2 separate regions of the Homo sapiens genome follow, and region 1 is linked to region 2. Evidence: fine-mapped expression QTL. A gene starts in region 2. The other region holds a variant in brackets. All regions are shown on one strand. Distances are from middle to middle. Region 1 has its middle 44 kb from the start of TRAF3. Region 2 holds the start of EIF5-DT (EIF5 divergent transcript).

Region 1 (5,367 bases), 600 kb after region 2:
AAATAATTTGCTATATAGCAAAAGACACACTTAAAATTATTTATATATTTATTTAGTTTTTTGAGACAGGGTCCTACTGTCGCCCAGGCTGGAGTGCAGGGGCGCGCCTGTAAACCCAGCTACTTCGGAGTAGTAGCAACTTGGCACGCCATTCTCCTGCCTCAGCCTCCCGAGTAGCTGGGACTACAGGCGCCCGCCACTACAGATGGGGTTTCACCGTGTTAGCCAGGATGGTCTCGATCTCCAGACCTCATGATCCACCCGCCTCAGCCTCCCAAAGTGCTGGGATTACAGGCGTGAGCCACTGCACCTGGCCTGAACCACACAAAATTCTAATACCCTCCATTGACAAGGAAACAGCCTACTTGACTGCAAGGGGCCAGTTCCTCCTGTGCTGCCACTCACCCTTGCCCGGGCGAGCCGCTGTCCTTATTCAACTGTCCCTTCCTCCCGGATGCCTTCCCCATGACTGCGCAGGTGGGACCATCCCTTCCTGCTTCCAGTGTAGTTGTGAGAAGCACTACCTGCCCCATCTTGGCAGGAAGGTGTCTTCAGCTTGTCCAGGCCAGAACTTGGCCAATCTCCTCACATGTATCAGCCAGCCAACTCCCCATTAAGGAGCGTGGATGGTAAGAAGGGCACCAAGGAATGGAGGGAGGGGGAGGACTTAGAATCCGGAATTCAATCTCATTTAAAATCTACAGCCAGGTGCAGTGGCTTACGCCTATAATCTCAACCCTTTGGGAGGCTGAGGTGGGTGGATCACTTGAGGTCAGGAGTTCAAGACTAGCCTGGGCAGCATGGAGAAACCCCGTCTCTACTAAAAATACAAAATTAGCCAGGTGTGGCGGCACTCGCCTATAGTCCCAGCTACTCGGGAGGCTGAGGCAGGAGAATCACTTGAACCTGGGAGGTGGAGGTTGCAGTGACCCAAGATGACGCCACTGCACTCCAGCCTGGGCAACAAAGTGAGACTCTGTCTCAAAACAAAAACAAAAACAGTTAACTGGGCGTGGTGGTGCATGCATGCCTGTAGTCCCAGCTACTTGGGAGGCTGAGGCATGAGAATCACTTGAACTTGGGAGGTGCAGGTTCTAATGCGCCAAGCTCCCACCACTGCACTCCAGCCTGGGCGACAGAGCAAGACCCTGTTTCAAAAAAAAAAAAATCTACAATCACCAGGCCTTCAGATTTGAATGTTTCTTCCCCTAGTCCTTTGGCAATAAATACCTAAGTAGCAGACAGCTCAATAAACAAGAAAAAGGCCCAGAAAACCCTAAGCCTCAGCTAATTCCTCTCTGGACACCCAGGAATTGGCAGCTGGGAATCCCACTCCCTGGGAGTCACTCATAAGCCATGGCAGGGCCTTTGATCCGTAAGCACGGGGCCAGCAGGCGTTTATTTTTCCTCCGCAATGCACCCGATTTCTCTATTCCGTTACTACACATCTATGTGCCTATTATTCCCAGCTGTGGGGAACTAGAGCACAACAGTGCTGACCTCAAGGAGCTCAATCTAGAGAGCCCGACAGCTTATCAAACACCTCAGATCAAAATGTGCAATTATCACAGCGTTAGCAAGGGCGTGGGGCAACAAGCGGCCTTGTTCACGCAGACAGGAGAAACTGATGCAACTGCTCTGGAAGGCCAGTGAGCAGTACGTATCAAATGGAAAAATGAACCAGATCTTTTCATCCAGAGATTCTATTTATCCTGCAACTACACTGGCACATAGGTGAAGTGACGTGATTTCCATTCTGCTGATGTTACAAAGGATACTTCTGTGCCTGTCAATTGACGATGGTTTCCATAAATCATTTCCGCCATAAATGGAATACCATGAAGCCAATACAAAGGAATGAAGCAGCTTTATTTTTTATTTTTTGAGGCACAGTCTCACTCTGTCACTCAGGCTGGAGTGCAGTGGCGCGATCTCGGCTCACTGCAACCTCCACATCCTGGGTTCAAGTGATTCTCCTGCCTCAGCCTCTCGAGTGGCTGGGATTACAGGTGTGCACCACCATGCCCAGCGATTTTTTTTTGTATTTTTAGTAGAGATGGGGTTTTACCATGTTGGCCAGGCTGGTCTCAAACTCCTGACCTCAGGTAATCCACCCGCCTTGGCCTCCCAAAGTGTTGGGATTACAGGCGTGAGCCACTGCGCCCGGCCCACAGTGACTTTAGACATATGTGCTGATGCAGGAAGGCTAAGAAGACTATCAGTGTGTCAGGTGGGCAAAGCTAGTGTGTAGAGTATGTCATTTGTGTGCACACATGCATGCCCGCAAATGTGTGATCATCCCTTGAGGGATATGCAAGGAACTGGCAGCAATGGCCGCCTATGGAGAGAACTAGGTGATCAGAGGACAGGGATGAGAAACTCACACTTCACGTAGGCCTTTTATACCAGGAACGCTAGTTAACTATTTCTAAAATAAAAATTTAAAATCACTTCATTACAGTTAGCACAAAGAGGTCAGCACAGAATGAGGCTTAAGTTGTAGAGGCCCCAAGAATCAGTCCCCCTGCAGAAGGTGGAGGAAGGGGTTCGTCAGGACCAGAGACGGACGGGGACGCATGACTGGGCCCGGGGCAGGCCGAGCTGAAGGGAAGGTGCCTGGCCGCACCCCTGAAGTCAGGTTAGGGCAGAATGAAGGGCTGTGCATTTTCTGGGAGACAGATGCAATGCTTTCCGCTTTCCACAGGAGAGGTCCCTGATTAGGTGGGGGGTGGGAGAGAAAAGGCAAGAGGAATGGTGGGGATTAGGGGCAGGTTAGTTAGGAGGCC[G/A]CGGCACCCCCTCGGGTGGGAAGAAGGACTTGTGCTGTCCCTGGCAGTAGTGATCGATCAAAGTGCTTCTAACTTGGCGACCAGATACACAGCAGTGTCACACACCACAGAAGATGCAGAAACAGGTGCCGGGGAAAAGGGTTTTAGTCTCAGACTTTGTGTAATTTGGAGGCACGGATGGGCATGGGGGTGGAGTGGTCCAGGGGCAGCTGAGCTCTGGGAACAGGGCTTTAGGTGTGAGCGCTGTGGAGTCCTCAGGTGCTGACGGAGCACCCAGGCAGTTGGGAAACGGTGAAGGGAGGGTGAGCTGGCAGAGCGGGCAGGCAAGCGGATGCTTCAAGGCCTGTGACTGTGCTCCTGCTTCTGGGACAACAGGAAAGTGTACTTGGGGGGCTCTCTTGGGGGGTGGGTTCCATTCAGCCCAGAACCAAAGGATCGGCTGGGCGTGGTGGCTCACACCTGTAATCCCAACACTTTGGGAAGCCAAGGTGGGGGGATCACATGAGGTCAGGAGTTCGAGACCAGCCTGGCCAACCCAGTGAAACCCCATCTCTACTAAAAATACAAAAATTAGCTGGGCATGGTGGTGCGCACCTGTAATCCCAGCTACTCAGGAGGCTGGGGCAGGAGAATTGCTTGAACCCGGGAGGTGGCTGCTGCAGAGAGGAGATCATGCCACTGCACTCCAGCCTGGGCAACAGAGCAAGATTCAATCTCAAAAAAAAAAAAAAAAAGACCCCAAAACAAAGAATAAGTCAGGGTCATCCATGAGCTAGTCTGGGCCCAAATGATGCCCCAGGCATGGCCTCTGATCTGTCGAGAAGGCAAGCAATTTGCATAGAGCCTCAAATACCTGTCAGCTCCAAGAGTCAGTGCCTAGCATGTGCTTGGCGCGTGGGAAGCACGGTGCTTGGGAGCTGCAGGGAAGGGAGCTTCTGAGAGCCAGCACCTGCCTCCAAGCAGTGCAGCTGCTCCCCGTTGGGCGTGGGTACTATGGCCTTTCCAGCAGTGTCAGCACCAAGTGCTCTCAAGATCTCTCCCTCCCATAAGCTGAAAGGCTGGGACAGGCCTGGCAGGGACCTCACCAGGCCTCTCCCGAGCCTTGTAATTCTCACTGTGGTGCTGTCTTGGCCTAGATTCCCCGCAAAAGCAGAGCCTGAGATGAGGCTTTGTGGGTAAATGGTTTGCTTTAGAAACCAATCCCAGGCAACAGAAGTAGGGGGCCAGAAAAAGTGAGGCAGGGAAGGAGAATCAGTCCTAGACCATTTCTGAGCTGGTCTCTGCAGGGGGCCGCTGAGGGGGAGCTGCTGTCTATGGCTGCCTTACCCAGATTACCCAGAGCTGCCCCTGGGGATGGAGCTCCCTGCTACTTCCAGGCTGCTGTTCCTGAGCTCCCCTAGGTCACCTACCTCAGGGTGCTGCAGTCACACCTGTCTGAAGCCGGGGTTGTGGGGAGGGCCAAGATGATGGGAAGTGAGGCACAGAGGCGCCTCATCTACACCTGTATACAGGTGTTTTTTTCCCCCTCAGTCCGAGAAAAGGGAGCTGGAGCCAGGGCCTCCATGTGTCTGACTCGGGACTCACAGCCCGCCTGCTATCCCTTCCTATCCTGTGCCCTTGCACGCGCTCAAGTTAGGCCAGTCTTTGAGAGGGGCTCTCCCTCAACCCTCCATAGCTCCCTCTTCCCAGCCTCAGCCATCGCCCGGGGTTCTTTGAAGTCACTAAAGGCCAAGTCCAAATGGCTCCACCTTCAGTGCCCAACCTAGCAGATGTCCAGCAGCATCTTGGCAGGGGGCCACCTTGGCCTCAACCTTCCTCCTCTCTGTCCTTGGCACTCATTTCCTCTTGTTCTAGACCACAAGCCACCTTCACAAATCACAGCGGAGGTCCCAACACTCTTGGCCTCGGCCCCTAGGTGCCACCCTCACCCAAGCAGACCCTCTCCCCTTTCCACAGGCTCAGCTCCGGGACAGGCACTCTCTAAATTAGATGCGAGGCAGCTGCAGCCTCCCTCCCAGACCTGCCTGTAGCTGTGGCTCCACTCGCCGTGGTGCTGACTGCTGTCACCTGGAGGATATGTGCAGTGTCCTCCACTAGACTGTCCACGCTGGGAAGGCTGGACCCGGTCACCCTTCTACAACCCTCCTACACTGTGCAGTCACACACAGGGGCCCCATCTGCCTGGACCTAGAAATTGGGTTTCTATAGAAGTTATCTAGTGAGCAAGCTCAGTGGCACAATGGATAGTGCACTGGACTTCTAGCCCCAATCTACAGTAGTCATCTAATCAAATTCTACATCCCAGCTAATAAAGGGAAGACCATGAGACCACAGCCACCGCCAGCTTCTTCACGCTACTCAGGAAACTACCGGCACTGGTGTGCATGCACTCTTGGCTGAGCAGAGGCCACAGCGGCAGTGATCTTGCCTCTGCACTGCCACCATCCTGCCTCCAGGTATCAGGCCAAAAGCCTGGTCAGGCTGAAAAAAGAAAATCCACCCATGGGGGGAAAAATGCCTCTTACTGAACCCTTGCATTTAAACCCACAACTATCACAAACTTTATGAATTCATGTGCTTC
Region 2 (5,367 bases):
CTTGTCTCATGGGAGAGAGAACACCGGAATAGGTTAGACTTTCTTGCTATAGCAAGCTCAAATTGTGTCAGACAGTTTTGATCATCTGCCACAGAGTGTTGCTTGCAATATTCAAGTTTAATGAAGGGGGCCCTCTTTACCAAACAATGCCAGTAAAAGAAACTTTGCTGGGTTTCCAGCAGAATTTTAGTCATTACTTCATCTACCCTCAGATAATGTCTTAATTGATATGGCACAGTTTAATTGGCAGCCTATTTTTCACCTTTAATGGTAATTAACAATACACTTTTGAAAGATGTCTTAGATTTGATAAAATATAGTACAAGGACTAAAAGGTTCCTTATATTGTTTTTTTGAGACAGAGTCGCTGTTGCCCAAGCTGGAGTGCAGTGGCACGATCTCAGCTCAGTGCAACCTCTGCCTCCAAGGTTCAAGCGACGCTCATGCCTCAGCTACCGGAGTAGCTGGGATTACAGGAGCACACCACCATGCTAAGCTAGTTTTTGTGTTTTTAGTAGACGGGTTTCACTATGTTGGCCAGGCTGGTCTTGAACTCCTGGCCTCAAGTGATGTGCCCGCCCTGGCCTCCCAAAATGCGGGGAATACAAGCATGAGCCACCGTGCCCAGTCTCCCTTACATTCCTATTACAAAAAAACCTTCTATTTTGTTCCCAACAGTTAGTAACTTATCTTAGGATCTTAGGAGTTCATCATGGAAGACTCACCAGGTGGGTTTTTGAGAATGAATGTGCAGAGTTTATGATGTGTGTCAAGCATGCCTCGATAGCCACAGGCTTTACAAGAATTACCTATTGTTTGCTTCTTTGGATTGACATGCTGCCAAAAAAATAACAAATGTTATCCATAATATAACATGAAAATATCTAATCAGAGGACATCTAAACCACAGACAGCTTCACATGCAAAGAAAACTTTTTTCACACAGTGACCTACTTTAAAAAAAAGAATGGAAATATCTCGAAAACTGGAGTTTTGTGTTTGATTTAAAATTACATTTGCTCTGCCTTCTCAGGAAGGTGACTTAGCGGTATCACAGAAGCAGGTATATGGCTTTTTCTTTCGACAACCACAAAAGCACTTACCAAATCTGTTTCAGGATTCTCACATTCAGGACAGAGAACAAATTTTTTAATGAATCCATCCAACATGTCTTGCAGCTTATTCGCCTCATGAGATCCATTGACAATGTAACGGTCATTCTTAACATCAAACTGGGTCTGTGCTCCCAGCTCACAACCAAAATATTTGGTGGGATCTATTTGAATGAAAAAGGAGTTTGGATCGTTACAGTTAACTAGATCTCTGGCTACTCACTCACATTTGTACGAACACCACTTTTTTTTTTTTTTTGAGACAAGAGTCTCACTCTGTCACCCAGGCTGGAGTGCAACGGCGTGGTCTCAGCTCACTGCAACCTCCGTTTCCGGGGTTCAAGCGATTCTCCCCCTTCAGCCTCCCAAGTAGCTGGGACTACAAGCGCATGCCACCACGCCTGGCTAATTTTTGTATTAGTAGTAGACTCAGGATTTCACTATGTTGGCTAGGCTGGTCTAGAACTCCTGACCTCGCGATCCGCTTGCCTCAGCCTTCCAAAGTGCTGGGGGTTACAGGTGTGAGCCAACGCGCCCAGCCATCCACTCTTTAAATGCGTTCCCCTGGTAGTTTTGTAAACTCATGGCAACCAATAAACCACGGTTCCTCACTTAACTTGTAAGGTAATTAGCTAGCATACAATTAGAACAAGTTTTGCAGCTCAAAGACTTTGAAGACTCTATCCATAATATGCCCTGTGGACTTTTCCAAGCTTTACTTACACGTTGGAGGCCGATTAAGCGCCTTTGCAACGTCAACCATGTTGACTATAACTGTCTTGATTCCATTGCCTTTGCCCTCAACCTAAAGGAAATAAGAATTTTAGTTGTGCAGTTTCCCCTGACAAATGCAAACTTCAAAATTCTACAAAAAGAGCTATCAACTAAATTGAAGAGCAGTTTATTACCTTGGCAATCAGACGGGGCATCTTGTAGCGATAGAACTGGTCTGACACGCTGCGGTTGACATTGACAGACATTTTGGCTTATTAGTGGCTTTATCAATAAGATGAAGAGATCTTTGATTGCAACTTTTTGGTATCTTCTGTCTGGAGAAGAAGGGATGACATAAACGACTGCAAGAGTTCTCGGTCTCTGACATGAAAAAATTTTCGCCACTGAGGCTGTAAGCTTCTTGCTTGTATGCTATGTTTCCCCAATACAGGTACCAATGGCTGCGCAACAGCTCTGAAAGAAAAAGGGAAAGAACACACAAAAATCCCCCCAGGTTTAACATCATCGCTGGATGGAAACGCCTCCTTTTTACATCCTAGTTATGCTTCTGCTTAACTCCACCTTAAAAAGCATCTGAGATCACATGCAAACAGCCATTCTCATGTAACACAGTACAATCTGCGGGAACATAAAAAGGCCTCCATTTCGACTAAGCTGTGACTGGTAGGGAAATGCCTGACAAGAAAACACAAGCTGTGCTGCCTCAGCCGCCGTGAGATTCCATCAGACCGAGGGCAATCAGCAGGTTTGCCTCTGCGGCCATCCTGGAAGTGCTGAAGAACGAACCCGAGCCCTCTCCGCCGCCCACCCCGCCTGGATAAGCAAACTTCTCAGGCACACCCCCGTTCGTCTTCATTTTTAAGGGCAACCTAGGGAACTGTTCTCTACAACTAATCGTTGCTTCGGCAACCATGGCTTACTTCAAAGCAGCACTTCCTTAAACGCAGCGCTCGCCCACAATTTGCCATTAAGCAAGAGAGCGCGAGCGAACGCCAGGCTCGCCCCGGCCTCCCTTTTCCTCGCTATTCAAATACTCGGTTAACCTTCGCCCTGGTCCCCATGGCTACCGCGCTCCGAGGCGTTTCCGCGGGGGCTGGCGAACCGGGCAGCTCCGCGAAGGAGGGGGGCGCGCGACCGGGGCGTCTGGCCCCATCCCCAGCGCGTCCCCCGAGAGCCGGCGGCCCCGGAGGGTGCACAGCCGGGAAGCGACACACGGCCGAGGGGTGCCGGGATCGGGCCGCCCCCGCCCCAGAGCGCGCGATGACTCACAAATGCAGCAGCTGAAGCCTGAGTCAGCCCGAGCGGCGGGCACGCGCGACGCGCTCCCGCCATGCCGGGGAGGGGGCGAGGCCGGGCCGGGGAGCGCGCGGGGAGGGGGCGGCCGGCGCCCGGGCCCGCGCCCGCCCGCCGTCCGCCCAAACTGCGCCACACGCCGCGGCGGGGTCACGCGGCGGCCGCCGCCATCTTGTGCGGCCGCCATCTCCTGGCCCGCCGCGCCCGCGACTCACCGTTTTCGTCAAATAAAGACATAAACCCAACGCTGCTCGCCCGGGACTGGGATGAAGTGAGGCGCGATATAAACCCGAGTCCGAGTCCGAGGAGGCGGAGGCGAAGCGCAGCGAGGAGCGGCCGGGCCAGGTGCCGCCGCCGAGCAGCGGGGAGGGGCTGTCCCAGCGACGTCCGCGGTCCACACCCGTCAGCGCCGGAGCTGGGCGACCTGGCGCGGAGAGACGGCGCCGTGAGCCGTGGGCGGTCGGGGAGTGCACCTTCCCCGCCAGCCAGCGGCCCGAGGGGTCGAGGGGGCGGGAAGCACCGGGCAGGGGGCCGCCCCTTCACCGGACTCACCTCTGGAATGTTCTCGCTCTGACTGAACAACGCCGCCGCCGCGCTCAAGCTACCCTCGGCCCCAGCGTCCGCCCCCCGCGTCAGGCCTCACTGCCCATTGGCTGGAGGCCTGCCACAGCTCGCTCGTCATTGGTTCGCTTGCGACGTCAATCGCATCTTTCCGCGCCCCTTCTGCTTCCTGAGGCTCAACTCGCGGCCTCGGCCCGCCTCCAGCCCCGGTCTCGCTTCCTTCCTCTCCCCTCCCCCCGCCTTTCCCAGAGGTCTTCGCGGCGCAGCCCTTGGGTCTCGCGAGACCCGGAGTGGCCCTGGTGGCGGGGCCGGGGTACCGGGGGCCGTTCTTTGTCGGTTTGGGCCTTGAGGGGGAGATGGTGGTTGGTCCCCTCCCTCGCCGGGTCTGGGACAGGCCGCGGCGTCATGGCGACTCCCGGGACGCAGGAGCCATCGTCCTCGAAACTGCTTTCGAGGCCGTGTTTTTGCGGCTGCCACCTTCGGGGAGAGGAACCCGACCGCGTTCTCCCCGCAGCGGGCGCTCATCTCCCTTTCCCGTTCTCCCGGGACGCCCGACTCCGGGCCTCGAGGAATGAGTTGTTTTTCCACCTTAAGCCCCAGGCCTGGGTCTTTCATCCCAGGGACGTCTTCTGTTTCGGACTCGGGGTGGATTGGCCGCTGGCGGAACGAGTCCGTGACTCGCCAGTGACCGCCCAGGGCGGTCGCGAGGCCGCGCCGCCTCGGTGTCGGCCCGCAACCCAGCCTGCGCGCTTAGCTCAGCGCGTCGCCTCCCGTTTTCGGAAGAGGAGGCCCTTAATTGGTTTGGAATCCTGGGGCCTCCTGAAGGCGCTTCGTGGTGGGTTCCCACCTTCTGGTGAAGGCCTCCCTGCTCTCCCAGGGTTGAAAAGCGCTATCCTTCGTGCTTCTCTTGTCACCTTTCTCCTAGTGGGCATCACGTCGAGTCCACCCCCTCTAGTTTATGACTTGTGAATTCTTTGATAAGCAAATCGTAGCCCAGAGCAGGCATTTATAATGAGATTCCAATGTATTCCGTTGAAAATTACTATTATTTAGGCCGGTCGCGGTGGCTCACGTCTGTAATCCCAGCACTTTGGGAGGCTGAGGTGGGCGGATCACCTGAGGTCGGGAATTTGAGACCAGCCTGGCCAATATGGTGGAACCCTGTCTCTACTAAAAATACAAAAAATTAGCTGGGCGTGGTGGCTCGCTTGTAATCCCAGCTACTCGGGAGGCTGAGGCAGGAGAATCCTTGAACCCGGGAGGCACAGGTTACAGTGAGCCGAGATCACACCACTGCACTCCAGCCTGGACAACAGAGCGAGACTGTCTCCAAAAAAAAAAAAAAAGAAAATTTTTATTATTTAGAGAGAGGCTCTCATATTTTAGTTCTGTTGAAACTCTCCCATTCTTTCTGAAACTTGGATTTTTTTTGTGAAAACTTGAGTCTTAAAAACACATCCATAGTTCACCCTGAAGTTTGAAGACCTCACTTGACTGATGGAGCGAGAGCCCCGCTAACCTGCACTCTGGTCTCTAAGGTGCAGTCATCGAGAAGTCCTGAGCGGCCGTGCAGGTTTCCCGATCTGGAAAAGAGAAATGTTGCTGAGGACAGGATGAGGTAGATAAGGGGCTGCCCTTTGTTTTGGACCAGTTGCATTTGCACTGA

The links.
Region 1: its variant is fine-mapped to the expression of EIF5-DT in nucleus accumbens (GTEx, PIP 0.96).

What each region holds. Positions count from the first base shown.
Region 1 is chr14:102,730,799-102,736,165 of GRCh38, reverse strand. No RefSeq gene overlaps it. Among named protein-coding and RNA genes, the nearest start is that of TRAF3, 44 kb to the left of the region's middle. The variant G/A (reference allele first, on the strand shown) is at 2,787.
Region 2 is chr14:103,332,586-103,337,952 of GRCh38, reverse strand. EIF5-DT (EIF5 divergent transcript) reads left to right here and starts at 3,293. Exons shown (of 1, transcript NR_158216.2): 1 at 3,293-5,367. EIF5 (eukaryotic translation initiation factor 5) reads right to left here and starts at 3,716. Exons shown (of 12, transcript NM_001969.5): 1 at 3,693-3,716; 2 at 3,356-3,564; 3 at 2,021-2,300; 4 at 1,836-1,917; 5 at 1,104-1,276; 6 at 726-837. The coding sequence starts at 2,092. It overlaps SNORA28 (small nucleolar RNA, H/ACA box 28), which reads right to left and starts at 104; the gene lies at 1-104. RefSeq lists silencers at 2,861-3,100, 3,211-3,260, 3,401-3,820 and an enhancer at 4,141-4,260.